Linked DNA regions of Homo sapiens. The protein of the gene in region 4 interacts with the protein of the main gene of each other region in a pairwise test. Each region holds a gene or a part of one and is shown on either strand. Other genes may lie near its edges.

Region 1 (7,027 bases), on a different chromosome or scaffold from region 4:
ACGAATATTTTCTCCATGAATGCATGCCTCTGATCTGAAAGAATGTGTAATAAAAGTGTTACAACATAACATTTGTCTTGCTAGATATTTAAAAATCAAAACAGACATGTTTTTGTAACTCTCCATTCTAGGACCCACCCTTCCAAGCCACAGATATTCTTGTAACATCTTACATTTATTTTTACCTCTTCCAAAAATGTTTAAGTTAAATTATTTTAAACACCTGAGATCTTGAATCAAAACTTAGCTTTGGCACTGTGAAGACGACAGCACCAGGAGCAGAAGAAAAACAACTCCTCTGATTTCCCACAGAAGAAAGTGTGGAAAGGAGAAAACCAAAAGTAAATAAATCAGAGCTATGGGAATGTAACTGAGTAAGCAAGCATATCCCAAAAACCCAGACCATGCAAGACGGGTGATCTGCAAGTCTGAGAGGATGACCTACTTAATCCCCAGATCAGGAAAGCTCAGAATTGTATCAACAAGCCTTAAAATTCAATAGGATGGGATTTGTTTCCCCCTTCTTGACCTCCCAGGTTGCAATGTTCTGGATTTACTTGTGTTTCTTTGTGGTTTCCACATAGCATGCAGTTTTCAGGCCAGACTTTGCTCCACCTAGTGGAACTGAAAAGGATGTTTCAAAAGGGAGGTGCCCACAGACCAGACCTCAGCCTGTCTACTGTATGCCACCAAGGAGAGAAGCCACCAAGACCCTCTGTTGCTGTAGCGTGTGCCTGTAGTCCTAGCTACTTGAGAGGCGGAGGCAGGATAATCCATCACTCAGTGGCTGCTCTTACTGGCTGTGCAGTTACAGTGGGATCAGCGGCCCCAGTGGTGTCCATGAATGGGGTAGTAGGAGCAAGGAACCAACCCAAGCCATTCTACCACCTGGAACCTGATGATCTCCCAAGTGTTAGTCCTAATAGCTGATGGCAGGAAAGCAAGAGGTCCTCTCAAGGGTATGGGTGGACAGGCATTCAAAAGACAGGTGAAGTTTTGAATCCAAAGCCATGCAAGATACCCATGACAACAACAAAGACCCGACGGCTCAAACATCCACAGATGAGCTGCCTCTTGGGGGCCTGAAAAGAGGACTCTCCTCAAGACACAGCCACCCTGAGGTCCAGGACACTTAGCTTCTCTTGTGACAGACCCTGAGAACACCTAATGATTTCCACAGGCTAAGCGTGCGTGAGAGCAAACCAACATTCCTGAGGCCGAAAATCAGAGTAGAGCCAGGACTTGGAATGGGGAAAGGAAAAAGTTCTAAGAACATGACTCAGTTCAGATTGGTTGCAGGACTATGGAGGACACAGAAAATAACTGACCATCAGGCTTTCACTGGGAGCAAAGCAAATCATGTTCTTAAAATAAAACCACAGAGCAGATCAAAGCAAGAGGAAAGAAAGTTCAAGATGGGGTAAATAAGGGAGGCTCACCTGCTTACTGAATCACAAATCAAAAAAACGTGTTTTCAAAATGTTTGATGTTGGCTGACAAGACAGAGCTGACTGACCACATACATCAACAAACCTGAAAGGCAGTGAGATTCGGCATATCAAAGCTTCAAGTCCCACCGAAAACTCGCTGTCCAAGGTTATTTCATACACTTCACAATGCTATGTTGTTCTTGCAAGAAAGCTGACCCCAAGCTCTGCAATAATGAACAGGACCTGGTAAGGCCACAGCAGGTCCCACTAAGCCAGGATTTCTCCACCTCGGGACCACTGACATTCTGGGCTGGAAAAGTCTTTGTCGTGGGGGGCTGTCCTGAGCATTCCAGGATGCTAAGCAGCATCCCTGGCCTCCACTCACTAGATACCAGTGGCACTCCCAAGCTGTGACAGTGACTAATGTCCTCTGGAAGGACAAAATTCTCCCCAAACCTAAATTCAGACATAGAACAGAATAAAGAAAGTCACTTGCAAAATCTCCAGATCTCAGTTCCTGAAGTTAGTCTGGGAGTTGACACTAACTTACAAACCATAATACACTCTGAGGACTGCCAACAGCAATAATGGTGATAATTATTATTATACTTATTAATCATTGAATATATTCCAAGAGCTTTACATATATTATGTCTTTTCACCTCATGACAACCCCATACTAGTACAATTCCCATTTTATAGATGAGGAAGCTGAGGCACAAAGAGGTTATGTAACTTGCTCAAGGACAGTATCAAATTTGGAACTCAGGTGGTCTGACCCCAGAGCTCATGACATGACCACTAGGTTTGACTGTACCAAATCCCTACTCTGGAAAGTTGTTAGATCAGTATCCTCCAATATGTAGTCACTATCTACATACAGCTATTTAGTTTAAATTATTTTAAGTAAATATCACATTGGCCAGGTGTGGTGGCTCACACCTGTAATCCCAACACTTTGAGAGGCCAAGGCGAGCAGATCGCTTGTGCCCAGGAGTTCAAGACCAGCCTGGCCAACGTGGTGAAACTCCATCTCTACAAAAAATACAAAAATTAACTGGGTGTGGGTGCGCACCTGTAGCTCCAGCTACTAGGAGGGCTGAGATAGGAGGTTTGCTTGAGGTGGAGATTGCAGTGAGCTGAGATTGCACCACTGCACTTCAGCCTGGGCAACAGAGGGAGATCGTGTCTCAAAAAAAAAAAAAGGAAAGAAAAAAGAAAACCTTGATTGGGCGCAGTGGCACACACCTGTAATCTCAGCACTTTGGGAGGCCAAGTCGGGCAGATCGCCTGAGGTCAGGAGTTCGAGAACAGCCTGGCCAACATGGCAAAACCCCATCTCTACTAAAAAATACAAAAGTTAGCTAGGCATGGTGGTGCATACCTGTAGTCCCAGCTACTCAGGAGGCTGAGACAGGAGAATCACTTGAACCCAGGAGGCAGAGGTTGCAGTGAGCCAAGATCACACCACTGCACTCCAGCCTGGGTGACAGAGTGAGACTCTGTCTCAAAAAAAGAAAGGAAAACCTTATGGTAAGTGAAATAAGCCACAAAAGACCACATAGTGTACCATTCACTTTATATGAAATGTCTAGAACAGGCAAATCCATAGGAATGGCAAGTAGATCAGTGGTCACTAAGGGATGGAAGAAAAGGGGCTAGAAAGGGAAGTGACTGCTAATGGCTATGGGGTTTCTTTCTGGGGTAAAGAAAATATGCTAAAATTGGGCCGGGCGTGGTGGCTCACACCTGTAATTCTAGAACTTTGGGAGGCTGAGGCGGGCGGATCACAAGGTCAGGAGATCGAGACCATCCTGGCTAACACAGTGAAACCCCATCTGTACTAAAAATACAAAAAATTAGCCAGGTGTGGTGGTGGGCACCTGTAGTCCCAGCTACTCAGGAGGCTGAGGCAGGAGAAGCGCTTGAACTCTGGAGGCGGAGTTTGCACTCCAACCTGGGCGACGGAGCAAGACACCGTTTCAAAAGAAAAAAAAAAAGAAAATATGCTAAAATTAGCACTGATAGTCACAAATTCTGTGACTATACTGAAACACCAATTTATGTATACTTTAAAAGGGTGAATTTTTTTGGCATGTAAATTACCTCAATAAAGTTTTTTTTTCTTTTTTTGAGACAGGGTCTCACTCTATCGCCCAGACTGGAGTGCAGTGGCGTGATCTAGGCTCGCTGCAGCCTCTGCCTATGGGGCTCAAGCGATTCTCCTGCCTCAGCCTCCTGAGTAGCTGGGATTACAGGTGCACGCTAATTTTTCTATTTTTGGTAGAGATGAGGTTTCACCATGTTGGCCACGCTGGTCTAGAACTCCTGACCTCAAATGATCCACCCGCCTCAGCCTCCCAAAGTGCTGGGATTACAGGTGTGAACCACTGCGCCTGACCTGATTATATCTCAATAAAGTTGATATAAAAAATTAAATATGGGCAGCCAGGCGTGGTCGCTAACGCCTGTAATCCCAACACTTTGAGAGGCCAAGGCGGGCAGATCATCTGAGGTCAGGAGTTCGAGACCAGCCTGGCCAACATGGTGAAACCCCGTATCTACAAAAAAAATACAAAAAAAATTACCCAGGCATGGTGGCAGTGCTTGTAATCCCAGCTATTTGGGAGGCTGAGGCATGAGAATCCCTTGAACCCGGGAGTCAGAGGTGGCAGTGAGCCAAGACTGCACCATTGCACTCCAGCCTGGGCAACAAGAATGAAACTCCATCTCAAAAAATAAATAAATAAATAAATAAATATGGAGGGCCAGGAACAGTGGCTCACGCCTGCAATCCCAGCACTTTGGGAGGCTGAGGCAGGAAAATCACTTGAGCCAAGGAGTTCAAGACCAGACTGGGCAATATAGTGAGACTTCTGCTCTATAAAAAAATTTTTTTAATTAAAAAAAATTAGGCCAGGCATGGTGGCTCACGCCTGTAATCCAAACACTTTGGGAGGCCAAGGTGGAAGGATCACTTGAGCCCAAGGAGTTCTAGACCCACCTGGGCAACATGGTGAGACACTCATCTCTACTTAAAAAAAAATTTTTTTTATTAGAGAGAAAAAAAAAAGAAAAAAAATTAAATATAGGGCCAGGTGTGGTGGCATGCACCAACAATCCTAGCTCCTTGGGAGGCTGAGGCAGAAGGATCGCTTGAGCCCAGGAGTTCAAAGCTGCAGTGAGCTACGACTACACCACTGCATTCCAGCGACAGAAACCCTATGGGCAACAGAGCAAGATTCTGTCTCTAAAAAATAAAAATATGTAAATAAACAAATATGTTTCAAAATTAAATATGTTTCAAAATTCAGTTCCTCAGTTATCCTAGCCACATTTCAAATGCTCAGCAGCCACCTGGCTAAGTGGCTACTGAATTGGACGGCACAGAGAGAGATCATTTCCAGCATCACAGAAGGTTCTACTGGATGGTGCAGCCTTAGATGAATGGATGAAAGGCCTCCTGACCATGTGACAACAGCCTCTCTTTCGAGCCTCCCCCACTTCCACACTCCTCTACACATCCACACACAAAGCTTCTGCCACAGAGTACATGTCACCTCCAAACACACTCTCCATTTTCATTCTTCCACACTGGAATCCATTTTTCCCCTTCCTGGTCCATACTCTACCCATGCTTATCAACCTTTAAAGTCCTGAACAAATGCTTTTTCCTTAATGAAGTTCTTCTTAGCACCCCATCTTCCTCTTGCCCTAGCAGAATCAGTTGTGCTGACAGTCCTTTGTTTGTACTTCCATTTCAGCAAAACCTCTGGATTACAATTCACTGTGTGCGCTATCTGTCCTTGCCACAAGATTTCCAGCTCCTGGGGAACAGGGATTCCATACTCATTTGATGGTTCCCAGGGCCTAGCAATAATAGCCTGCTGCAAAGAGTAGACATTTCAGTAAATGTCCATTCTTTGATGCCTACTGAATTCCACTGAAAGAGTTTGCAGAAACTCAAGGTGCTGATTTTACACTTTGGTACATCAAACGCACTAAGCAGGTGAGGTAAAAGGGATTAGAATCTGGAAGTCTCGAATCCCACTATTGTATAAGGAGGAATGATGGTGATGGCATTGAAATACCATTTGTAAGAAAGGAGAATGGAGTAGGGCTTCCAGACTGAAAACTGGGAATGGAGGTGAGTAAAGGTAAGGTGGGAACCAAAGGGTATACCATTGAGGGTGAGGTGGGAAAAAATAGCAGGAACTGAGGCCCCCATCCAGCTCAAAGTTTTTTTTTGTTTGTTTGGTTTTTTTTTTTTGAGACGGAGTCTCGCTCTGTTGCCCAGGCTGGAGAGTGCAGTGGCGCGACCTCGGCTCACTGCAAGCTCCGCCTCCCAGGTTCACGCCATTCTCCTGCCTCAGCCTCCCGAGTAGCTGGGACTACAGGTGCCCACCACCATGCCCAGCTAATTTTTTGTATTTTTAGTAGAGACGGGGTTTCACTGTGTTAGCCAGGATGGTCTCAATCTCCTGATCTCGTGATCCGCCTGCCTCGGCCTCCCAAAGTGCTGGGATTACAGGTGTGAGCCACCGTGCCAGGCCCAGCTCAAAGTTTTAAGCCTGGCAAAGGAAAGGTAAGGACTGCATCTCTAGAGATTTGTCCCTAAACCACTGGCTGAGTTACCCTATTAAAAAAAGACATTTCTACCAAAACTTTGTTTTAAATAACATAGTCAAATATTCTGTTTAGGCTGGGCAGAGTGGCTCATGCCTGTAATCCCAACACTCTGGGAGGCTGAGATGGGCAGATCGCTTGAGCCCAGGAGTTTGCGACCGGCCTGGGCAACATGGCGAAACCCCATCTCTACAGAAAAATACAAAAATTAGCAGGGCGTGGTGGCATGCACCTGTAGTCCCAGTTACTCAGGAGGCTGAGGTGGGAGGCTCGTTTGAGCCTGGGAGGTCGAGGCTGCAGTGATCCAAGATCACATCACACCACTACACTCCAGCCTGGGCAACAGAGTGAGATCCTGTCTCAAAAACAAAACAAAAACAACAACAACAAAAACAAACATTCTGGTTAAATCTAAACAACCAAAAGAAACTCTATGTATCTCAATGATAATTTAACTGGAGGAAACAAACGCCAAGGCTGTCGGAGCCTTACTATTTGGAGCATCTACTGTTTTCTCATTCTTTTTTTTTTTTTTTTTTTTTTGAGACGGAGTCTCGCTCTGTCACCAGGCTAGAGTGCAGTGGCATGATCTTGGCTCACCACAACCTCTACCTCCCACGTTCAAGCGATTCTTCTGCCTCAGCCTCCCGAGTAGCTGAGACTACAGGTGTGCCACCATGCCTGGCTAATTTTTGTATTTTTAGTAGAGACAGGGTTTCACCATGTTGGCCAGAATGGTCTTGATCTCCTGACCTTGTGATCTGCCTGCCTTGGCCTCCCAAAGTGCTGGGATTACAGGGGTGAGCCACCATGCCCAGCCTTTTTCATTCTTTATAGATTTAAGGATTCACGTCTGTGAGTTGTAATGTCATAACCTGTAGGAGAGTTAAGTCTAAGTTCCTAACCACAGAATGAACTAGCTGATGAACTTTCCAGGGCCTGCCTGCATAAACAAGAAATGGCTGTTTCAG
Region 2 (6,913 bases), on a different chromosome or scaffold from region 4:
AAGAACAATATAAGTAATTTTCTGTTGGTGAACATTTAAAATGTTCTAGTTTGGAGCTATTATGAATAAAGCTATAGTGAACATTCACGTATAAGTTTTTTGTGTACACATATATTTCATTTCTATTGGGTAAATTCCTAGGGAGTGGAATTACTAGGTTTTAGGGTAGGAATGTGTTTAACATTATGAAACTTCCCCTCATACAGCTTTTTTTTTTTTTTTTGAGACACTTTCTCTCTGTCACCCAGGCTGGAGTGCAGTGGTGCAATCATGGTTCCCTGAGCCTCGATCTCCCAGACTCAAGTGATCCTCCCACCTTAGCCTCCCTAGTAGCTGGGACCACAGGCATGCACCACCATGCCTGACTAATTTTTTTTTATTTTTGTAGAAATGGGATCTCCTTATATTGCCCAGGCTGGTCTCAAACTCCTGTGCTCAAGCCATTCTCCTGCCTTGGCCTCCCAAAGTGCTGGGATTTCAGGCAGGATCCACCATGCCTGGCTGAGCCCCTACTATATATATATATATATATATACACACACACACACACACACACACACATATATATACACACACATATATACGTATATATACGTATATATGTGTGTGTATATATATGTGTGTATATATGTGTGTGTATATATATGTGTGTGTGTGTGTGTGTGTGTGTGTATATATATATTATTTTTTTTTTTTTTTGAGACAGAGTCTCACTCTGTTGCCCGGCTGGAGTGCAGTGGCGCGATCTCGTCTCACTGCAAGCTCCGCCTCCCGAGTTCACGTCATTCTCCTGCTTCAGCCTCCCAAGTAGCTGGGACTACAGGCGCCCGCCACCTCGCCTGGCTAATTTTTTGTAGTTTTAGTAGAGACAGGGTTTCACCGGGTTAGCCAGGATGGTCTCAATCTCCTGACCTCATGATCCGCCTGCCTCAGCCTCCCAAAGTGCTGGTATTACAAGCGTGAGCCACTGCTCCCAGCCGAGCCCTAGATATTTTTTTAAAAAATATGGATTCATGGTCTTCAGTTCCAAGAAAGAATTCTGCGTCAGTCTGAGGTTCCTAGGCATGTATAATATGTAGTTTTTAAAAACTCCCCAGAACCAATGGTCTAAATTATATTGGTGGCGGTGGAAAGGAAGTTATTTTGGTTTGGTTTTCTTTTCCACCACAAAAGCATATAAATGTAAATAGTTTTTTTCCCTGCCTAGCTACAACCTTTCTCTGAACATTTTCCCCAACTCTAGCCATTAGCCCCAGTATTGAAATAGTCTCTCTTTTTAGTTTCTCTGGTGAAATGCAAAGCTCTGGTTTTTCTGCTCTTGCTTAAAGTGATGTAAAAGCTCAGGGAGCTCCTTGAAGCAGCCCTTAGAATTGCTAAGACGAGTAAACAAAAACAGATCTCTAGGGTGGAAAAGAACTTTGGACAGAATAGCAGTTGAGGGTGTGTGGCCCTGTGTACACCGGTAGGATTTTGTCTGGTGCTTTTACCTTTTTTCCCTTACTATTCTACCTAGCAGCAAGAAATAGTCAACTGTGTTCTGGCTGCTGCCAATGTCTACATTAAACAGCTGCCTCTGAGCATCCAACCTAGTGCCAGCCTAAATGGCTGCATATCACTAGAGAAGAAGCCTCTAGTTTCTACGCAGAGAAACTGAGACACAGGAATGGGAAGGGAGTCACTTAATGGATTAGGGACTGGTTGAGCTGGGACCAGAACCCAGGTGGCCTGGCTCCCAGCCCAGCTGACCACACTGCTACCCACACAGCCTGGGCTGACCAAAGACAAGCAGCCCATTGAGCAACTGCACAAACAACAATGAATGATGGATGGTCAGAGCAAGAAATAGGCACAAAGCAACTGTGACCCCATCACTTCCTGGCCCCTAAATTTCCAGGCAAGCCTATAAAGTGTGGTCACTTAAATGACTTTGACCAGCAACTTGGCCCAGCTTTCAAATCTGGAGACCTTCTATGGTCACTGCCAAAAGAAAAAGTCTTATATTGAGGGTAGAGTGCCTTTGAGCTCCACGCCTGGTTCTATTAAGTCTGTGGCAGTGGCGTTAAGATTAGAAAGACATATTTATATGGGTATAACCTGGTTCTGGACAGCTGTGGTGAAACAAGGCAACTTTCAGATTTTGAGGCTCCTCTTCTACAGATCTGTGCTCCCATCTCAGATTTAACTAGCAAAGGGTAGGTGTGGTCAGTGATTGTTGTCACAATCATTCCAGAATGTTTGTGTAGAGTTACTAGAATTTCAGTCTTTTCATTCTAAAGTATTTTCATCCCTCTCACCTTTCTAGAACGACACCCTTTTCAGCTCCTTTCCAACGGCTGTAGCCAACTGATTCTACCCCAGAGTCCCAAGCGTCCACCCCCGTACCCTTCCAGTTCAGTTCAGTTAGAGTTCAGTTAGAGTCAATTTAGGTGACCAAATCTCATCCTGCTCTCCTCCTTAAATTTACCACTAAACGGTAGCTAAAATTTGTGGTCCCTTATACGCTTGAAGCCCACGCCAAATGACTTTACTTGTCAACCTCTATTGTATGTCTTGGATATGCCCCCATGCAAGGCACTCTGACTTGTTTGGCCTTAGCATGTGTGGACAGCCTTGGGCCCAGCCCTAAATTTTCGATTGTAAACCCAGGTGTATCCCTAAGAGATATAGCTGTCTAGGAAGTTTCCCTGTTTCAGGTGTCAGTTTCCTATTCTGAGCTAGACAATTCTAAAATGCCTATGCCCCACGCCTCCCCTTTAGAAACTGAGGAAGAAGTGAGGGGAAAGAAAAGTTGACTAGAGTATTTGTTTTTACATAGGCATAATGGGCACAATTAGGCAATACATTATTTTGAATATGCAGACCAGGTGCTATAATGTTAGGAATCTGAATTAAAATTTCAAATGTCTTTTGTTAGAGTATAGCCGGGGTTGGCATCGTTTTGTGTTTGTCATAAAGAGGTATTTACTAAATGGCCTTTCTTTCTTGAAACAGTCCACACAGGCCTAATACTTATTCATTCATTCAACAAATATGGAAGGTCTACTATGTGACAAGGATGGCTTATTATGTTCTCATAGCCATAGCTCATTGTCACTCAGGTAGGACACATACAAGTTCTGCTACATATAATATAGTTTTATGTATTTTACTAAATTGTAAAACCTTTGATGTCTGGGATTATGTCTTGTTAATTTTTGTATCCCCCTGTATCACTGAGAGCAGTGATACACATCACAGGGATACAATACATATTTGAATTATGCCATAATGTTTTAAAAGACATAACAAACGCACTAGAAGACATAACAAACGCACTATGTAAGTTTTTTTTACTGTTAGCAGTCTAAAGCAGATGTATCAACAGGGTATCACTGTTATGCAAGTAAATAAATATTAAGTGTTTACAGAGAAGGATATGTTCACTTCAAGAGTGAAGGAACAAGAGAAATATATAATTGGGTGGAGACTGGTGTGGAAGAAGCTAATCTTCCTCCGGTCACTCCAGAATGATTGTGTAGAGTTACTAGAATGTCAGTCTTTTCATTCTGAAGTATTTTCATCTCTCTCACCTTTCTACAACTACTCCACCCCTTTCAGCTCCTTCCCAACGGCTGTAGCCAACTGATTCTACCCCAGAGTCCTAAGAGTCCACCCTGTACTCCTCCAACTCCTGTTCAAGAATGCTCCAGACCAGGAGCTTTAGGGACTCGGGTCGGGAAAACACGGGGTCACGCGCGGGGCAAGCGCCAAACTGGCCGCAGCCTGGGGAGCGGCGCTAAAGGCGGGGCTGCGACGGGGCGGAGCGGGAGGAGGCCCGGGGGCGGCCTGGGTGTCACCACCAACCCGCTCCGGCCGGAAACTGGCGCCTGTTTCCGGCCGGACAGCAGAAAGCCACCGATCCTGAACCAGCCGCCGGAGCCGGAGTGGCGACCGGGTGCGGAGTGGGCAAAAAGCCACTGGGGGAGGCCAGTCCCGATCAGTCCTTTCTGGCTCCAGCTCCAGATCCCGTGCGGAGCAACAGCTGCGGTCGCAGTCTCCACCACCGCCTCCACCTCCATCGCCGTCGGGGGAGGGGCCGGCCGGACCCCGGGGTCACTGCCGAGGAATGAAGAGAGGCGGCCGGGCCCCGCGCTCCGCCCCGGCCTAGGGCCTTGCCCCGGGAGCCCGCGAGGGTAACGGAGCCCCCCGTCCTGACACCGTCCCCCGTCTGCTCCCGCCCCTCCCGGCTTCTCAGACTCGCAAACTCTGCTCCTCAGATCGCCACTGTCCCCTTTCTCCTTTCTGAATCTGTTTCACCCGAAGCCATCTCCCCTCGGCACTCCTTTCTCGCCCTGACTGCTCCTTGCTTCGTCCCGATCTTTCCTCCTCCCTTTCACCTGCGTCCTGCGTTCCTACCCCGCGCTCTCCAGCTCCCGGCCTCCCTTCCTGAGCTGTGCTGGCCAGTTTGGACGGTCCCCCCTTGTCAGCTAGACTTTCGGGAGGGATGGTGGAGTTTTAAGGTGATTAAGATGCAGTGTATTATCCCCACAGTAGGATAAAGTTCATTTAAAATCTCAATATAATACTAAAATGAAAAGCAAATAAGCTTATTCTTCCTATTGATAGCCAAACTAAGGTGCATACAGTAATGGAGGAAAGGCGAGAAAAAGGTGTGTGTGTGTGTTTGTGTGTGTGTGTGAGAGAGGGAGAGAGACGGAGGTTGACGGATTCTAGGGCAGTCTTAAGAACTTTAGAAAAAAGAAAAGTTGCCATGAGCCGATGGAAACTTTAGAAGCTGATGATGAGTAAGCCGGGGGCTGCGTGATCTCACTCTTCTCATAATTACTAGGTTAACGGTGTGGCTCCGGTCGGGATGGAATGGGATTTGTTTACTGGGCCGGCGTATTTTTAGCTTGTCGGCTCACAAGGACCAGCGCTCAGAGTCTCTTTCTCCCCGCTCGTGGTAGTCTTTCTTGTCTAACCTAGGTGGCTTCTCTGGGCACAATAAAGATGTAAAAATTTGAAATTAGAAACTGACTGGTGGAATTTTATGGAAGAAGTTCCCCACAAACTTTTCAGGCAGCTTTTCACGAATGCAAAGCCTAGAATTAGCAGGACGTTGACTTTTATTTTCCTTATCTTTTTATACGTACTACGTAACGCTTTGCTTAGAAATTCACATGCTGCTAATTTTTCAGTCTTTGGCCTCTAGTACTGTATATTTAGGAGATTTTTGAGGAGGCTGGATCCCTTTGTCTTTCAGAATCTATTTCAAAGGTGGAAAAGGACAGAGTAGAGAAAGAGGTGGCGGTAAGACTGGCTCCAAAGAGTTGCTAACCCCTAAATATTTAAAAAAGTTTCTATGCTATGTAACTTCTGAAAACATGTAGAAAATTTTCTTCCTACTAAATGAGATTGCATTCCTGATGGGGAGAAGACTTCAGGGACGGAAGCTGGGTGGCTAGGGAGAATCAGAGGTAGTTAAATATTTGCTGTGTATAACTTACAAATACATTATGCGCAAACAATGAAGAATTAATTATACGCTTTGTCTTCATTGTTTTTCAAGTAGTTCTTTTAACGTTCAGTAACCAACCTGCTGTGCTAGTCTATTGATATTTTGAAGGCTGAACAAAACTGTAAAATAAATGAACTTGATGTTGCTCCTCTGCAGGCTGAATACCCCCGACCGTTCTAATTTCCACTATTGACCCAGCTTGCCTCAGAGCACCTCCCTGACAAAGTGGCCAGTTACTATGTACTTAGAGATTGCAAATCAATGCAAATATTAGCTCATACTAGGAATAATTAAGAAGGTAAATATGCTGAAAACATATATTCCAAAACCAAAATAGATTTTTTCGATTTTACCCTCATTTTTGATTATCACCACCTTTCTGCCAATAATTATCCGTTAACATGAATAATTTAGAATTGAACAGATATCTGCTTTGGACATTACACTTTCAAGATAGAAGGAAAGATGGAAGGAAGATAGTGCCAAACTAATTTTTTATTGTCATTGCCTTATTTGACTTATTCCTTGCTTTTAATACTGAAGACTCCCTCGGAAAAAAATGTAAAACTTTGCCAAAGCAAGAGCTGGCTATCTACTGACTTGTATAAGGCCCGGTGACTGGTAATGAATGCTAATCATTAGGTGGCCTTTAGTGGCCTTATGTTGCCAACAACTTGGAAAATTTCCCAAAGCTTTATTTGTTTAATCTTTCTTTTGAGACCCCTATTTAAAAAACGACTTAATTTGGAGACGAAAATCTAATTTTTAAAAACCACATACACCTTTCCCAGAATCTGTTGATGATCAATAATTGTTTTGATCTGTGTGAGTTGATTGGTGCCAATATTAGTGATGATATCTGGGTAAATTCTATTTATATCTGCATCTAGCAACTCCCTAAGTTGAACTGCATACTTTATTCCAGGGCATGGGGATCAAAGGGGTTGAAGAAGCCTAGGAATGAGTGGAGAGCTGCCTGGTAGTCCACCACTATTCCTAGTTCTCAGGAGGCTTTATTTGCAATTTTGAGATTCAATGTATGTAACCAAAATAAGTATTCTGATTGTTATGAGGGCACTAAGTGCCACTTGTCAAAGTTTTGGAGCTCCTGAGTATCTTAAGCATGCTAAAAGACACTGGCCATTATAGTGTGGGTGTATGTGTGTATGAGTAGCACTCTCCTTACCCTAAACACTCATCCCACCAAAGGGAAAATCCTTAAACAGCGCTTTGAAATGTGACCTCAGCAGTATCTTTCCTATGGGAACTTAGGAGCTGTGGAATAGCAGACTGTGGAATCTTTTTTGTAGCCTCTGATAAATTCAGGTAATTAAAAATTTGTGTAACTGGAAGATAGATACAGGGCAGTTTTTCTCATGAATGCCTGAATTCAGTTGACTTTTTAATATAATAGAA
Region 3 (6,851 bases), on a different chromosome or scaffold from region 4:
TCACTTGAACCCAGGAGGTGGAGGTTGCAGTGAACTGATATCGTGCCACTGTACTCCAGCCTGGGTGACAGAGCAAGACTCTGTCTCAAAAAAAAAAAAACAAAAAAAAAAAACAGATTCCCTGGTCCCACCCACTGCGACTGTGATTCTGTAGGCTTGGAGAGGGCCTGTCAATGTGTATTTTCAGTGCCCTCCAGCCAGCTCTGATATGCAGCCAGTGTGGACTCTGCTCCCCAAGGGGGCTGACAGGAGGGTCCATACCCATGGGTCTGCAGCCTCCCACATTAGTGGCCTTGCCTTGGGCTGGAAAGCCAGTCCTGCCTTTGGGATATGAAGCAGCTGCTTTTCCAAGGCAGCTTCTCCCAAGGGAGACATCACTTTTGCCCTTGTGAGCTCTTCTCACACATGGGGGGCAGGTCTTGAGGTGGGACAGTTCAGGACACAGGCTTGGGACACAGATGGGCCTGGCTTAAATCTGGCTCTTCCACTTATCACATGACCTCTGTAAAATGGAGCTAATTTTTTAGGACCTACCTCGCAGGTTCATTTTGAGAACTAAATGAGACAAAGCATTTAAAAGCGCTTGGCACAGAGTTTGGCATATTTATAGGAAGCCCTTGATAAGTGTTCACTATTACTGCTTTTTTTTTTTTTAAAGCATGTGTCAACAAACAGCCATTAAAAAAAAATCTTAATGATAATATAGCTTATCAAATAGTTTCTTTAGGACTGATGGCAAAGAGAGGCCAAAAGGAGATCCAGATGGGGGAGGAGGAAGAGGGTCTGTCCCTGGGGAAAGATCTGAGTGGATGGTGCAGGGATCCTGGTCAGGCAAAGACCAGGAAGGGATGAGGTTGGCCAGGCCGCCAGATCACGTTGCTTCCTCTCTCCTGGCCTTGGCTTTCTCATCTGTAGTGTGAGGGTCAGCTGTGGCTTAGTGAAAGCGCACTAGACCTAGAGTAAGAAAGACCTGGGTCCAAATCCCAGCCCTGCCACTTACCAGCTGTGTGCCCTTGGGCCAGTCACTTCCCCTCTCTGAGCCTCGGTTTCCTCACCTCCTTCCTCACAGCATCTTTGTGAAGATTGAAATGAAATAATGTCCATGAAAGGGCTTGGCACAGGCCTGCCTCCCAGAACACTCGATATGTGCTAGGCGCTGTTCTATGTACTTTACAGAAATCACCTCATTCATTTCTTCCAACAACCCTCTGAGGAAGGGATTATTATCATCCCCATTTGCAAAACAGGGGAAACAGAGGCACAGGGAAGTTCAGCAACTTGCAGAGGCAGGATTTGAACCAAGCAGTTTTGCTGGAGAACCAGAGTTCTTCACCCCACACCACACACACTAGGTGCTTTAGGAAAGGCAGCTGGTGTTAACATTTTTCTCATCTGATCAGGAAGTTGGGTGGTTAGAGTTGTCACAGTACTTTGTGAAAAATGGGAAGATAAAATAATAATTATGAATTGAGGTGGGTTTGGTCAATTTTGTCTTTCAGCTAGGAAGGTGAGGAGGGACAAACAGCTGAAGGCCCTATGTGGGGGGAGGAGGGGTCGGGCCCTTGTTCTGGCTGCGTTGGGTGGGTGTCTGGTGCTTCACCCCTTCTAGGCCAGGGATGCTCACCCCAGGACGATGAGTTCACCATACTTGATGGGCTCCTCGCCTGGCTGCGCATCTTCACCGGGAGAGGAGAGAACGCAAGAGCCCTTGTTCCCCCGGTGCTGGAGGTCTGAGGTTCGGGGGGACCCCACTTCAGGGTTTCCTTCCAGCACCATTCTGGGCAGAGTGGGAGAGAAAAGAGCTTTGTAGGTTCCCACCCCAGCCCGGCTCAATTCCAGCTGCAGCCTGCTGCAGGGCCGCCTAGGCTAAGGCAAGGGTGACCTTTCACCGCCTCTACTGCTATGGCAACCACTTCCCCTCTGCCTCCTCTAAACTGCCCGAGGTTGCTGGGATACCAGGGAGGGGTGGCACAGTGAAGAGAGTCAGGATATTCAGTGGTGCCAAAGAGATGGACCAACTTGGGGTGGCCAGAGGCTGCTTTTTGGCCAAGATCCCAGTCTGGGATGTGCTTCAAAGCGGGGCACCCAATGAGTTGGGGGCCGTTACCCCTCATCTCAGACTCAGTTCCTGCTTATAGCTCTTAGCCTCTGGACCTCTGATTTAGCCTCTCTGACAGGTTCTTTGAATCTACCTGTCCATCTGAATCTTTCTTGCCCCTTTGAGGTCTAGGCCTCTGTCTGTCCATCTGCTTTCTCAATGACTCTCTGTCCTCCCAGCCGCTGTCCTTTTTGCCGTCTCTCTCCCCCCATTCCCCATCTCTGCCTGTCTGCCCGCCTCCGCCTCACCATCTGCCTCAGTCTCCCCATCTCGGCCTCCCCCTGCGGGTAGGCCAATAGACTCCTCCTGGGTGCGCGCTCTTCCCTCCCTCAGGTGTCTGTCTGCGTCCCCAGCCGCCCGGGTCTCAGGAGGCCTGCGGAGGCGGCGCTCCCCCCTCGAGCTCGGGCTGCAGCACAGCCGTCTCCCGCAGGCAGCCCGTTTGGAAAACATCCCCGCGCCAGAGGGACCGCGCCGGGGCAGGCCCGCGCCCTGCGCCCCGGGCGGGCAGAACGGGAACCGCGGCCCAGCACCTACGCAGGTCCACACCCGGCGGCCCCTCCGCACAACACGCGCGCGTGCACGGCCCCGCACGCCCCGGGCCCGGACGGCGCAGAGACCACCCGCACCCGCGACCGCAGGGACGCGCGGGCGCGCAGCAGCCACCGGCGCCCGCCCTCGGACCCACTCCCTCCACCACCCCCAGACACGCAAACACGCCCCCCGCGCCCGCCGGGGCCCGCCTGGCGCAGCCCCCGCCCCCTCCGCCCCGGCGGCCTCACCTGGCCACGCTCCGGGCCCCGCTGGGCGCCGCTCCCTCCCCGCCTAGCCCCTGCTCGGCCCCGGGCCGCTGCGGCGGGATGGGCCCGGCCCGCGGCGGCTCCGCGCTGCCTCGTCACGGGGACACCCAGGGCCGGGGGAGGGGGATGAGCGCGAACAGCCACGCTCCGCCCCCTGTCCGGAGGCCCCGCCCCATTTTCCCCGCCCCTAGGAGAGCTCCGCCTCGCTCCAGACTCCGCCTCTTGCGGCGATGCTCAGCCTTCGTAGGCGGAGCTCCGCCCCTTCGCAGGAGACCACGCCCTTCCCCTGGTACCGCCCTCTGACCAGGGAAGCCCCGCTCTCCACTCCGTCTGAGGGACTCCCTTGCCCCTCCTAGCCGGCTCAGGACTCCCCCGTAGTCTACACGACCCCTCCCCCATTTCAGACTCCCCAAACTCCGCCTCCATTTCCGGGGACTCCGGGGTTCTCCCAGAGACATGGGCGCCCCTCCCCACTGTCGGTCAGGGCCCTCACACGGCGCTGGAGGCCCCTTCCCTAGCCTTAGGCCCGGGACTACGCACCCCCAGCTCCGACACCCCGCCTACCATCTGGGGACGCCACGCAATTAGAGGAGAGGAGGAAAATGCTAAAGGCAAAGGGGGTGTGCGGCAGCGGTGGAGGCCGGGGAAAGCAGCTGCAGTTGACCAGAGTCGCAGACCTGTCTTCCAGCCCAGCTCGGGCACCCCCCATTCCCCTCCCCTCAGTCCCCTCCCCTCCGCCAGGATGCACACACCCCCCGCTGTGCTGCAAAGGAAAGAGAGTTTTGGGGGAGCACCGCCCCTTCTGGGCCTGGGGCTTGCGAGAGATCTATCAGTCTACGTTAGGCGCTGTGCGCTGTGCTTTGAGCAAATTAAACCCTTTACTTTAATCCTGGGAGGCAGGCACGATAGTTGCCCATTTTACAGATGAGGAAATAGATTTACAAAAGTGACTTGCTTGTTGTAGTTTGCTAGAAACGGGCCAAGAGAGAATCTCAGCTGTATGAGTGGCTTCAGTCTCAACTCCTAACTTCGTACCTTGTCGTTCTGACTAGGGATGGAGCCTCAGAGGTGCAGAAGAGAAACCTTGTCTGCATCAGGTAAGGTCCCTATTGCTCAGTACTCTTGGTCTGGAACTATAAAGGCTGGATTATAGTTCCAGATCAAGTCTTTGGTCTTGTGGGGGGCGGTGGGGGTGTTTAATGAGAAAATCAAGGAAGACTGCACAGAGGAGGTGGCTTTTGACTTCCATTATGAAGGATGCATGTTTAGTTTGCCTAAACATTCCTGAGAGGGAGCCGCTGCCACTCCCACCCCCACAAACTTGTTGCACCTGAAGTTCCCCATCTACCAGACTCCCCTGGGGCCCTACTATATCCACCCCGCTAACTCCTCCACCTAAAAATAGCCAAAGATACCAACTGCTTTGCCAACTGTTCTGGGGCCCAGCGGCTAGATGAAACAAGAAAGCAGCCGACGGCACATCCTTTAGGGGAAAAGACACTCGTTAGTCACAGAGAATCTCCCTGCGAGACTTCCACCAAGCAGGACACCACCAGACCGCTGGGCTGCTGGCTGCAGGTCACACAAACCCTGTGACACAGGATAGCTGCCCTCACTGATGCCACCAGAGGCGTCCATTGTGCTGGGTGTGCACGGGGACCCTGGGACAGCCTCACTCCCTTGTGTACCCCCAGCTTTTAATGCATTGCCTGCCAGAGCAGGTCCTCAGTGAATATATACTGAATCCCTGTTATAATCCCCAATTTACACACCAGGAAGCTGAGGCTCAGGCAGAAGAAGAAACTTGCCCCAGGTCACAAGCCAGGCAGATGTGGAGCTGATGCTTCACAGGAGCCCCAGTGCTTCCACCTGACACTGGACTGCATGGAGGAAGGTCTGAGAGGGATCACCAAGACTCACTGGAGGAGGAGGCAGGGATTTCTCCTGGGGCAGTACTGGGATTGGAGCTGCATGGTGGCACAGCCAGACCATCAGGCCTCAGGGAGGCTGAGGTGGGCCCGACACCAGGATTGCCCAAGTAAGGGAGAGGAAGGGAGAGTTAGGACACCAGTAGCAGATGCCTAAGTTCCAACCTTGGCTTCTGGCTCTAAATCCAGCGCTCTGCTCCAAGAACTCCAGCTTCTTAATCTCACTAAGCTTCAGTTTCCTTATGTGTAAAATGGGAATAATAATGATACTTGTGGTGAATAGGATTTTGCAGTATTGCTTTGAAATTCCTTTGTCAACCCTCCCTTTTCTCTCTTCAATCTAGATCTTGTCCCTGTTGGTTCAAAGAAAGGAATAAAATAGAAACTTTATTTCTTTCTTAAAAAATTTTATTATTATTATACTTTAAGTTTTAGGGTACATGTGCACAACGTGCAGGTTTGTTACATATGTATACATGTGCCATGTTGGTGTGCTGCACCCATTAACTCATCATTTAGCATTAGGTATATCTCCTAATGCTATCCCTCCCCCCTCCTCCCACCCTACAACGGTTCCCGGTGTGTGATGTTCCCCTTCCTGTGTCCATGTGTTCTCATTGTTCAATTCCCATCTATGAGTGAGAAAATGTGGTGTTTGGTTTTTTGTCCTTGCGATAGTTTGCTGAGAATGATGGTTTCCAGCTTCATCCATGTCCCCTACAAAGGACATGAACTCATCATTTTTTATGGCTGCATAGTATTCCATGGTGTATATGTGCCACATTTTCTTAACCCAGTCTATCATTGTTGGACATTTGGATTAGTTCCAAGTCTTTGCTATTGTGAATATTGCCGTAATAAACATACGTGTGCCTGTGTCTTTATAGCAGCATGATTTATAATCCTTTGGGTATATACCCAGTAAAGGGATGGCTGGGCCAAATGGTATTTCTAGTTCTAGATACCCCTTTTTTTTTTTTTTTTTTTGAGACGGAGTCTCGCTCTGTCGCCCAGGCTGGAGTACAATGGCACAATCTCGGCTCACTGCAAGCTCCACCTCCCAGGTTCACGCCACTCTTCTGCCTCAGCCTCCCGAGTAGCTGGGACTACAGGCACCCGCCACCACGCCTGGCTAATTTTTGTAGTTTTAGTAGAAACGGGGTTTCACTGTGTTAGCCAGGATGGTCTCGATCTCCTGACCTTGTGATCCGCCTGCCTCTGCCTCCCAAAGTGCTGGGATTACAGGTGTGAGCCACCACGCCCGGCCGAAACTTTATTTCTTTAATTCTTGGGTTCTAATGCCTGAAGGGGAGAGGCTTGGAATAGTTTGGAAAAGTAGTTGTATATCTAGTTGAGAAAACATGTGGAAAAAACAAAACAGGGCTGGGCGCAGTGGCTCACCCCAATGCTTTGGGAGGCCAAGGCAGGAGGATCGCTTGAGGCTAGGAGTTTGAGACGAGCCTGGGCAACATAGTAAGACCCTGTCTCTACAAAATTAAAAAAATTAGCTGGGCATGGTGGTGCCTGCCTGTAGTCCCAGCTACGCAAGAGGTTGGGTCAGGAGAATCATTTGAGCCCAGGAGATCGAGACTGCAGTGAGCTATGATCACATCACTACACTCCAGCCTGGGCAACAGAGTAAAATCCTGTCTCTAAAAAAAATTAAGAAGAGAAAAAAACAACAGCAGCACATTCTTTCTGGGCTGGGAGATTTGGAGAGGAGAAGGAAGAGCTAAGATGCTAGGTTCTGCCCTTGAGGCCATGCCAGACGGGGAGGGTGGGGTTGGGAAAAGACAGATCCCTCACATGGATTTGGGGATCCAGAGCAGAGGCGACCTGGGCTTCAGTTCTCGGTCTCTAGCTTTAGAGGAAAGCCCTTGAAGCAAGGCCTGAGAATAATAATCCATGGCTCTTGGTCTCTTAGTTCTACTTCCTGAGTCATCTTTCATTTTCCATAAAAGGTAGTCTGTGTTTGCAGCTGAGTAATTTTCTTGGCCTGCATCCTGTCTATAGAAGTTTGAGGGTTCG
Region 4 (7,109 bases):
TCACCGCGAAGATCTGCAGCTTCACTCCTGAAGCCAGCGAGACCATGAGCCCACCGGGAGGAACGAACAACTCCAGACGTGCTGCCTTAAGAGCTGTAACACTCACCGCGAGGGTCTGCAGCTTCACTCCTGAGCCAGCGAGACCACGAACCCACCAGAAGGAAGAAACTCCAGACACATCCGAAACATCAGAAGGAACAAACTCCAGATGCGCCACCTTAAGAGCTGTAGCACTCACCGCGAGGGTCCACGGCCTCATTCTTGAAGTCAGTGAGACCAAGAACCCACCAATTCCGGACACACTAGGATTATAGGCACGAGGCCACCATGCCTGGCCTGTATTTTTTTTTTTTCCTCTGAGACAGGGTCTCACTCTGTCAGCCAGGCTGGAGTGCAGTGGCGCTATCTCGCTGGAGTTGTTTTTTTTTGTTTGTTTTTGTTTTTGAGACGGAGTCTCGCACTGTATCCCGGGCTGGAGTGCCATGGCACGATCTGGGTTTACTGCATCCTCCACCTTCCGGGTTCATGAGATTCTCCTGCCTCAACCTCCCGAGAAGCTGGGATTACTGGCGCACAGTACCACGCCCGGGAAATTTTTTTGTATTTTTAGTAGACAGGTTTCACTATGTTGGCCAGGCGGGTCTCAAACTCCTAACCTCATGATCCACCTGCCTTGGCTTCCCAGAGTGCTGGGATTACAGGCGTGAGCCACCAAGCCCGGCCGGATTTTTTTATTTAGATAAAGTTCACATGTCCTAAGATTCACCACATTAAACTGTACAATTCACTGGTTTTTAGCATATTTACAAAGATGTGCAATCATCACCACTGTATAATACCCCGGCATTTTAATCACCTCAGTGTGTTTTTGTAATTGGCTGGTATAAATATTTAGAATCTAAGATTAAGGCGGGGCGTGGTGGCTCAGGCCTGTAATCCCAGCACTTTGGAAGGCAGATCACTTTGAAGTCAGGAGTTTGAGACCAACCTGGCCAACAAGGTGAAACCTTGTCTCTAGTAAAAATACCAAAAAATTAGCTGGGCGTGGTGGCGTACACCTGTAATCCCAGTTACTTGGCAGGCTGAAGCACGGGAATTGCTTGAATCCAGGAGGCAGAGGTTGCAGTGAGCTGAGATTGTACCACTGCACTCCAGCCTGAGCGAGAGAGCACGACTCTGTCTCAAAAAAAAGAAAAAAAAAAAAGAATGTAAGATTAAAGTGATTACCTCCAGTTTTCACCATCACTTAACTAATGCATGCATTTATTGAAACATAACTTCCTATTTTAGCTAAATTGTTGTACCAAAAATTTATGTGATATAAAACACGTATTCATATAAATTTTACTTAAGTATTCAATGAACACACAGATAACCTAAATTCTATTTTTTTTTTTTTGAGACAGTCTGGCTCTGTTGTCCAGGCTAGAGTGCAATGTCTCAATCTCAGCTCACTGCAACCTCCCCCTCCCAGTTTCAAGCAATTCTGCCTCAGCCTCCCGAGTAGCTGGGATTACAGGTAGTGCCACCACGCCCAGGTAATTTTTCTATTTTTTAGGAGGGTTTTTGCCAGCTCAGGATTTTGGTCAGGCTGGTCTCGAACTCCTGATCTCAAGTGATCAGCCCACCTTGGCCTCCCAAAGTGCTGGGATTACAGACGTGAGCCACCGCACCCGGCCCAGAAAACCTAAATTCTTATTCACCTCTCCTTACATTTTTTTTCTGGTTTAAAATAGCTGTTTATAAAAAACAACTCCATTAAAAAGTGGGGAAAGGACATGAACAGACACTTCTCAAAAGAAGGCATACATGCGGCCAACAAACACGGAAAAAAGCTCAATATCACTGATAATTCGAGAAATGCAAATCAAAACCACATGAGATACCACCTCACACTAGTCAGAATGGTGATTGTTAAAAAGTCAAAAAACAAAAGATGCTGGCGAGGTTGTGGAGAAAAAGGAACGCTCTTACACTATTTGTGGGGGTGTAAATTAGTTCAACCATTGTGGAAGACAGAGTGGCAATTCCTCAAAGCCCTAGAGGCCGAAATACCATTAGACCAAGCAATCTCATTACTGGGTATATAGCCTCTAAAATATAAACCATTCTGTTATAAAGATACATGCACACATATGCTCACTGCAGCACTATTCACAATAGCAAAGACGTGGAATCAACCCAAATGCTCATCAATGATAGACTGGATAAACAAAATGTGGTACATACACACCATGGAATACCATGCAGCCATAAAAAGGAACAACATCATATCCTTTGCAGGGACATGGATGGAGCCGAAAGCCATTATTCTCAGCAAAGTAACGCAGGAGCAGAAAACCAAATACCGCATGTTACCACTTATAAGTGGGAGCTGAGTGGTGAGAACACATGGACACATGCGGGGGAACAACACACACTGGGGGCTGTCTGACGGCTGGGGGTGGGAGGAGAGAGAGCATCAGGAAGAACAGCTAATGGATGCTGGGCTTAATACCTAGGTGATGGGATGATCTGCGCAGCAAACCACCATGGCACACAGTTTACCTATGTAACAAACCTGCATATCCTGCGCATGCACCCCTGAACTTAAAAGTCGGGGGGAAAAAAAAGAGAGGTAGCAATTATCACCTTAATGAATTCCTTTCTTCACTTCTCATATTGCCCCTCATTTTCCCTAATTTCCCTCATTTTTTTCATTTATAATATATATATATTTTGAGACGGAGTCTCGCTCTGTCACCCAGGCTGGAGTGCGGTTGGCGCGATCTCAGCTCACGGCAAGCTCCGCCTTCCGGGTTCACGCCATTCTCCTGCCTCAGCCTCCGGAGTAGCTGGGACTACAGGCGCCCGCCACCACGGGCGGCTAATTTTTTTTTTTTTTTGTATTTTTAGTAGAGACGGAGTTTCACCATATTGGCCAGGCTGGTCTCGAATTCCTGACCTCGTGATCCACCCGCCTCAGCCTCCCAAAGTGCTGGGATTACAGGCGTGAGCCACCGCGCCCGGCCTCATAATATTTATTTCCTAAATAAGCTAACTTGATGACTACTTACAAGTATTCTAAAGTGAGCTTGGCTTCTCAGTATTCGTCATTGTGGCTTTCATATTATCTTTTCACTTCTCTTTACTATACTTTTGCATAATAGCTGTCTAACAAGTTTTTATGGAAATAAATTTATTGCAAACAAAAAAGGAAATAGCTGTTTATGATAAAATTTGTATAGAAATGCAAGGAGAAAAACAAATCACTCAACTGCTTTTCAACACGACGAAAAGTGGGTTAAGGTCTCAAAATTCTTTAAATTTTAAAATACCGATTTATCGGTAATCGAGGTTTTTTTGGATCTGCTTCTTTAAGAAAAAAAAAAACAAAACACACACACACAAACCAGCGAACTTCAGACGCTCTTACGACACCTAGCTATATTCACTGGGAACGCAATCTAACGTCACCAAGGCCCACCTCCCGGGCCCTAGAAATCGCTCTCTGGGAACAAGCTGGGGACTTTGATTTTGCTAGCCCTGCCCCTCTGAGCCCTTCACCAAACTTCCGCGCGGGGGCGCCCGCCCCACCTCCCGCCGGGGCTCAGCACGCGGCCTTCTCCCAGCCAAGAGCCCCGTCATAGGTGGGCGCCGACCCCGAGCCGATCTCGCTTTATTAAATTACAGAAATCGGTATTCAAAAAAAAAAAAAAAAAAGGGCGGGGAGGACACTCCCTCTTCTCTGTTCCCACACCCTAGCTGATTCCCAGGTTTCGGGAAACTCCACAGGAAACGGAAATGGTCTCTCCCAGGCCAGCGCGCGCGCCGGGTTGCATCACCCGCCTCGCACGGGCCGGCGGGGCGGGGGTTTGGTGGCTGCCCTCAGTATTGCCTGCACAAATATCTACCAGGTCTGCGACGAATAGCTCCAGCAACTTCGCACCGTGTTTTCCACTCAGCCTACCGACAGGCACTGTGCAGATTCAAGCGGAGAGATGTCCAAGCAGTGAGGCCGCTGCTGCACCGGCCATCCTGAGCCCCTACTCGGCCTTCCCGTCTCCGCTTCCCCGCCCCGCACTAGGACCCCTGCAGATGATCAGGCGGCAGCCGGGGTGATTTCCTTCCTCTTTTGGCAACATGGCGGGCGGAGAAGCTGGAGTGACTCTAGGGCAGCCGCATCTTTCGCGTCAGGATCTCACCACCTTGGTGAGGTTTTGCTTGGGGAGGATGCAGAGTGAGCTCAGGAGTGGAGGTGACCGAGCCTCCCGGTGGTATTGGGACTAGTCAGTGTCGGGAGCATGGGTCAGGAGCCTGGGTCAGGAGGGAGACCTGGAACTGGGCGCCCTAAGCCATGCTCGCGCCGCCTGTACCCAGGCCAGTCCACGATCTGGGCGCAGGCGTGTACGGTCGTGGGACTTCTAGCTTCTGGAGGGTTCGGCTGGAAAGTCTTGATGTTGATTGTCATGGTTTCAGCCTCTGAACGTCTGGGAAGGGGGTGTCCTGTCTGCATTACTTTTAGTGCTAATGTTCCCAAGATTGGGGGGATCTCTGACTTCCAGATATCCCCTAATAGTTGAGTGGAGGTGTAGTCTGTTGTGTAATGATGAAGGGCTCTTAACAGCTTCCCAGCCATAGGAGTACAAAGTTACTGATAGGGAAAAGGAGCTTTAGAAGTAGTGGAAAGCTGTGCAGATGGTGGCAAGATGTAGATAGCAAACGTAAAGTCAAAGGAAAAGTTCTCATTTGTTTTACGTGCAGTGTTTTAAAATATATTTCATTGCAGGATGTTACCAAGTTGACGCCACTTTCACACGAAGTTATCAGCAGACAAGCCACAATTAACATAGGTAAGAGTAACTTAAGAGACCTAACCTTGGTCTCCAACAATTAATTTTAACCTCACTTTTTGTGTGATTACTTGAATAGTATGAGGATTCAGATATTCAAGAAATAGATACTGAGTCCTTGTGAATAAAGCATCTGCTACATTTGCGGTGCAGGGGGAGCACAAAGAATGCTGCCCACATGTAGCTTACAGACTCGGTAAGAAGAAAAAATGGAGACATAAGAAAAGTTTAATAGCATAAGGCAGTATGTAGTCATATGTAGCAGAAGTTTAAGGAAGAGGTGAAAAATGTGGCTGTACTTGACACACAGGATTATTTCAAGGGCAGAATTTATGAAAGTTTTATTTGATGTACAAGCTGTGATTAAATAGAAGGTTTTTTTTCTTAATTGGCACCTAGAACTTTAGAGGAGAAGTTACGTTGACTGAGTGTAAATTTTGGACATTTTGAGTTTGTACAAACAGCACAGTTTGTACGAAAGTAAGTTAAAAAGTACAGAAGTAAGTTAAAAAGTAAGACTAGTTTTTAACCTAGTTAAAAAGTAAGACTCCACCATGAGGCTATTAAAGTTACAGTATTACAGTCTGGAGCTTTAATTTATTAATGCAAACAAAGCCCAAATAAGCCTACAGGCCTTGAACTACTGCCCCTGCATTAAAAATTTTGGTTGAGGTGACCTTGGAGCATAACCTAACCTCCGAACAACCTATGCTAAGACTATACCAGTTAAAGCAAATTACTGTGCATATATTGACCCAATAATTTGATCAACGGAACAAGTTGCAATTAAACTTAGGTTGTTTCCTTGTTTGTTCACAGATCCCTTTTTGTTGTGTCAGGGCCCATCATACCTGTTTAATCTGGAAATGCTGGAAGGTTCCTTAATATATAAAGTTCTGGCCGGGTGCAGTGGCTTATGCTTGTAATCCCAGCCCTTTGGGAGGCCAAGGCAGGTGGATTGCTTGAGCCCAGGAGTTGGAGACCACCTGGGCAACGTGGCCAAACCCCATCTCTACAAAAAATACAAAAAATTAGCTGTGCGTGGTGGTGCATGCCTGCAGTCCCAGCTACTAAGGAGGCCGAGGTCGGAGGATTGCTCAAGCCCAGGTGGTTGAGGTTGCAGTGAGCTGTGATCAGGGCATTGCATTCCAGCCTGGGCAGCAGCAGGAGACCCTGTCTGTCCCAGAGTATATTTTTTAAGTAAAGCTGTTAGTTACATGGAAGTTTCTCTTAAGTCCTATATGAGAACACGTTTCTAGTAGGAAGGGGTATGGAGGAGGAAAAATTGAAGTCACTGTTGGTTTTATGTTGATATTTACAGCAAGTTATGGCTTTGGCTTTAATTGTATTTATTTATTTATTTATTTATTTGCGACGGAGTCTCGCTCTGTTGCCAGGCTGGAGTGCAGTGGCACGATCTCGGCTCACTGCAGCCTCCACCTCCTGGGTTCAAGTGATTCTTTTGCCTCAGCCTCCCCAGTAGCTGGGACTACAGGCATGCGCCACCACGCCCAGCTAATTTTTGTATTTTTAGTAGAGATGGGGTTTCACCATGTTGGCCAGGATGGTCTTGCTCTCTTGACCTTGTGATCCACCCACCTCGGCCTCCCAAAGTGCTGGGATTACTGGCGTGAGCCACCGTGTCCAGCTGGCTTTGGGTTTTCTACTCTTAACACTATTTGAAAAAATATTTGGTATGTAATTAAATACACATGAATTAATTTTTTGAACTTTGTCCATAGGTACAATTGGTCATGTAGCTCATGGGAAATCCACAGTCGTCAAAGCTATTTCTGGAGTTCATACTGTCAGGTTCAAAAATGAACTAGAAAGAAATATTACAATCAAGCTTGGATATGCTAATGCTAAGGTAAGCTGTGTACTGTGGAACGAGAAACTAACTTTAATTGTTGTGCAGATAACAAATCAAAATCTTTTTTTATTGAAATTTTAGATTTATAAGCTTGATGACCCAAGTTGCCCTCGGCCAGAATGTTATAGATCTTGTGGGAGCAGTACACCTGACGAGTTTCCTACGGACATTCCAGGGACCAAAGGGAACTTCAAATTAGTCAGGTGACCTCTCTTTTGCTACAAACACTACACTTTATATTTTATTGTCTTCTGTTTTGTGCTTTTTGAAATATCGAGGTGTTAAACGGTGAACCTAATGGCTAAATGGTTTTGTTGTTTTTCCATTGTTTATGTTTTTATGGGAAATCTGAAAAGTCAAGCATCTAAACCTAAGTTAAAATACTTACATGCAATTTCTCCAAA

Evidence for each region.
Region 1: the proteins of EIF2S3 (region 4) and WBP1L interact in binary tests that used the Homo sapiens proteins (3 or more experiments, as listed by UniProt).
Region 2: the proteins of EIF2S3 (region 4) and OTUD7B interact in binary tests that used the Homo sapiens proteins (3 or more experiments, as listed by UniProt).
Region 3: the proteins of EIF2S3 (region 4) and PELI3 interact in binary tests that used the Homo sapiens proteins (3 or more experiments, as listed by UniProt).

Annotation. Positions count from the first base shown.
Region 1 is NC_000010.11:102,746,931-102,753,957, reverse strand, and holds part of WBP1L (WW domain binding protein 1-like isoform 1 precursor), read right to left. Parts: intron 1-7,027.
Region 2 is NC_000001.11:150,007,707-150,014,619, reverse strand, and holds the start of OTUD7B (OTU domain-containing protein 7B), read left to right. Parts: upstream 1-3,893; 5' UTR 3,894-4,172; exon of another isoform or gene 4,173-6,913. UniProt on the Homo sapiens protein: Negative regulator of the non-canonical NF-kappa-B pathway that acts by mediating deubiquitination of TRAF3, an inhibitor of the NF-kappa-B pathway, thereby acting as a negative regulator of B-cell responses.
Region 3 is NC_000011.10:66,463,054-66,469,904, reverse strand, and holds the start of PELI3 (E3 ubiquitin-protein ligase pellino homolog 3), read right to left. Parts: upstream 3,001-6,851; 5' UTR 2,878-3,000; intron 2,776-2,877; exon of another isoform or gene 2,347-2,775; intron 1,778-2,346; 5' UTR 1,777-1,777; coding exon 1,625-1,776; intron 1,073-1,624; coding exon 1,001-1,072; intron 1-1,000. UniProt on the Homo sapiens protein: E3 ubiquitin ligase catalyzing the covalent attachment of ubiquitin moieties onto substrate proteins. Involved in the TLR and IL-1 signaling pathways via interaction with the complex containing IRAK kinases and TRAF6.
Region 4 is NC_000023.11:24,050,847-24,057,955, forward strand, and holds the start of EIF2S3 (eukaryotic translation initiation factor 2 subunit 3), read left to right. Parts: upstream 1-4,109; 5' UTR 4,110-4,122; coding exon 4,123-4,191; intron 4,192-4,768; coding exon 4,769-4,832; intron 4,833-6,574; coding exon 6,575-6,702; intron 6,703-6,786; coding exon 6,787-6,908; intron 6,909-7,109. UniProt on the Homo sapiens protein: Member of the eIF2 complex that functions in the early steps of protein synthesis by forming a ternary complex with GTP and initiator tRNA.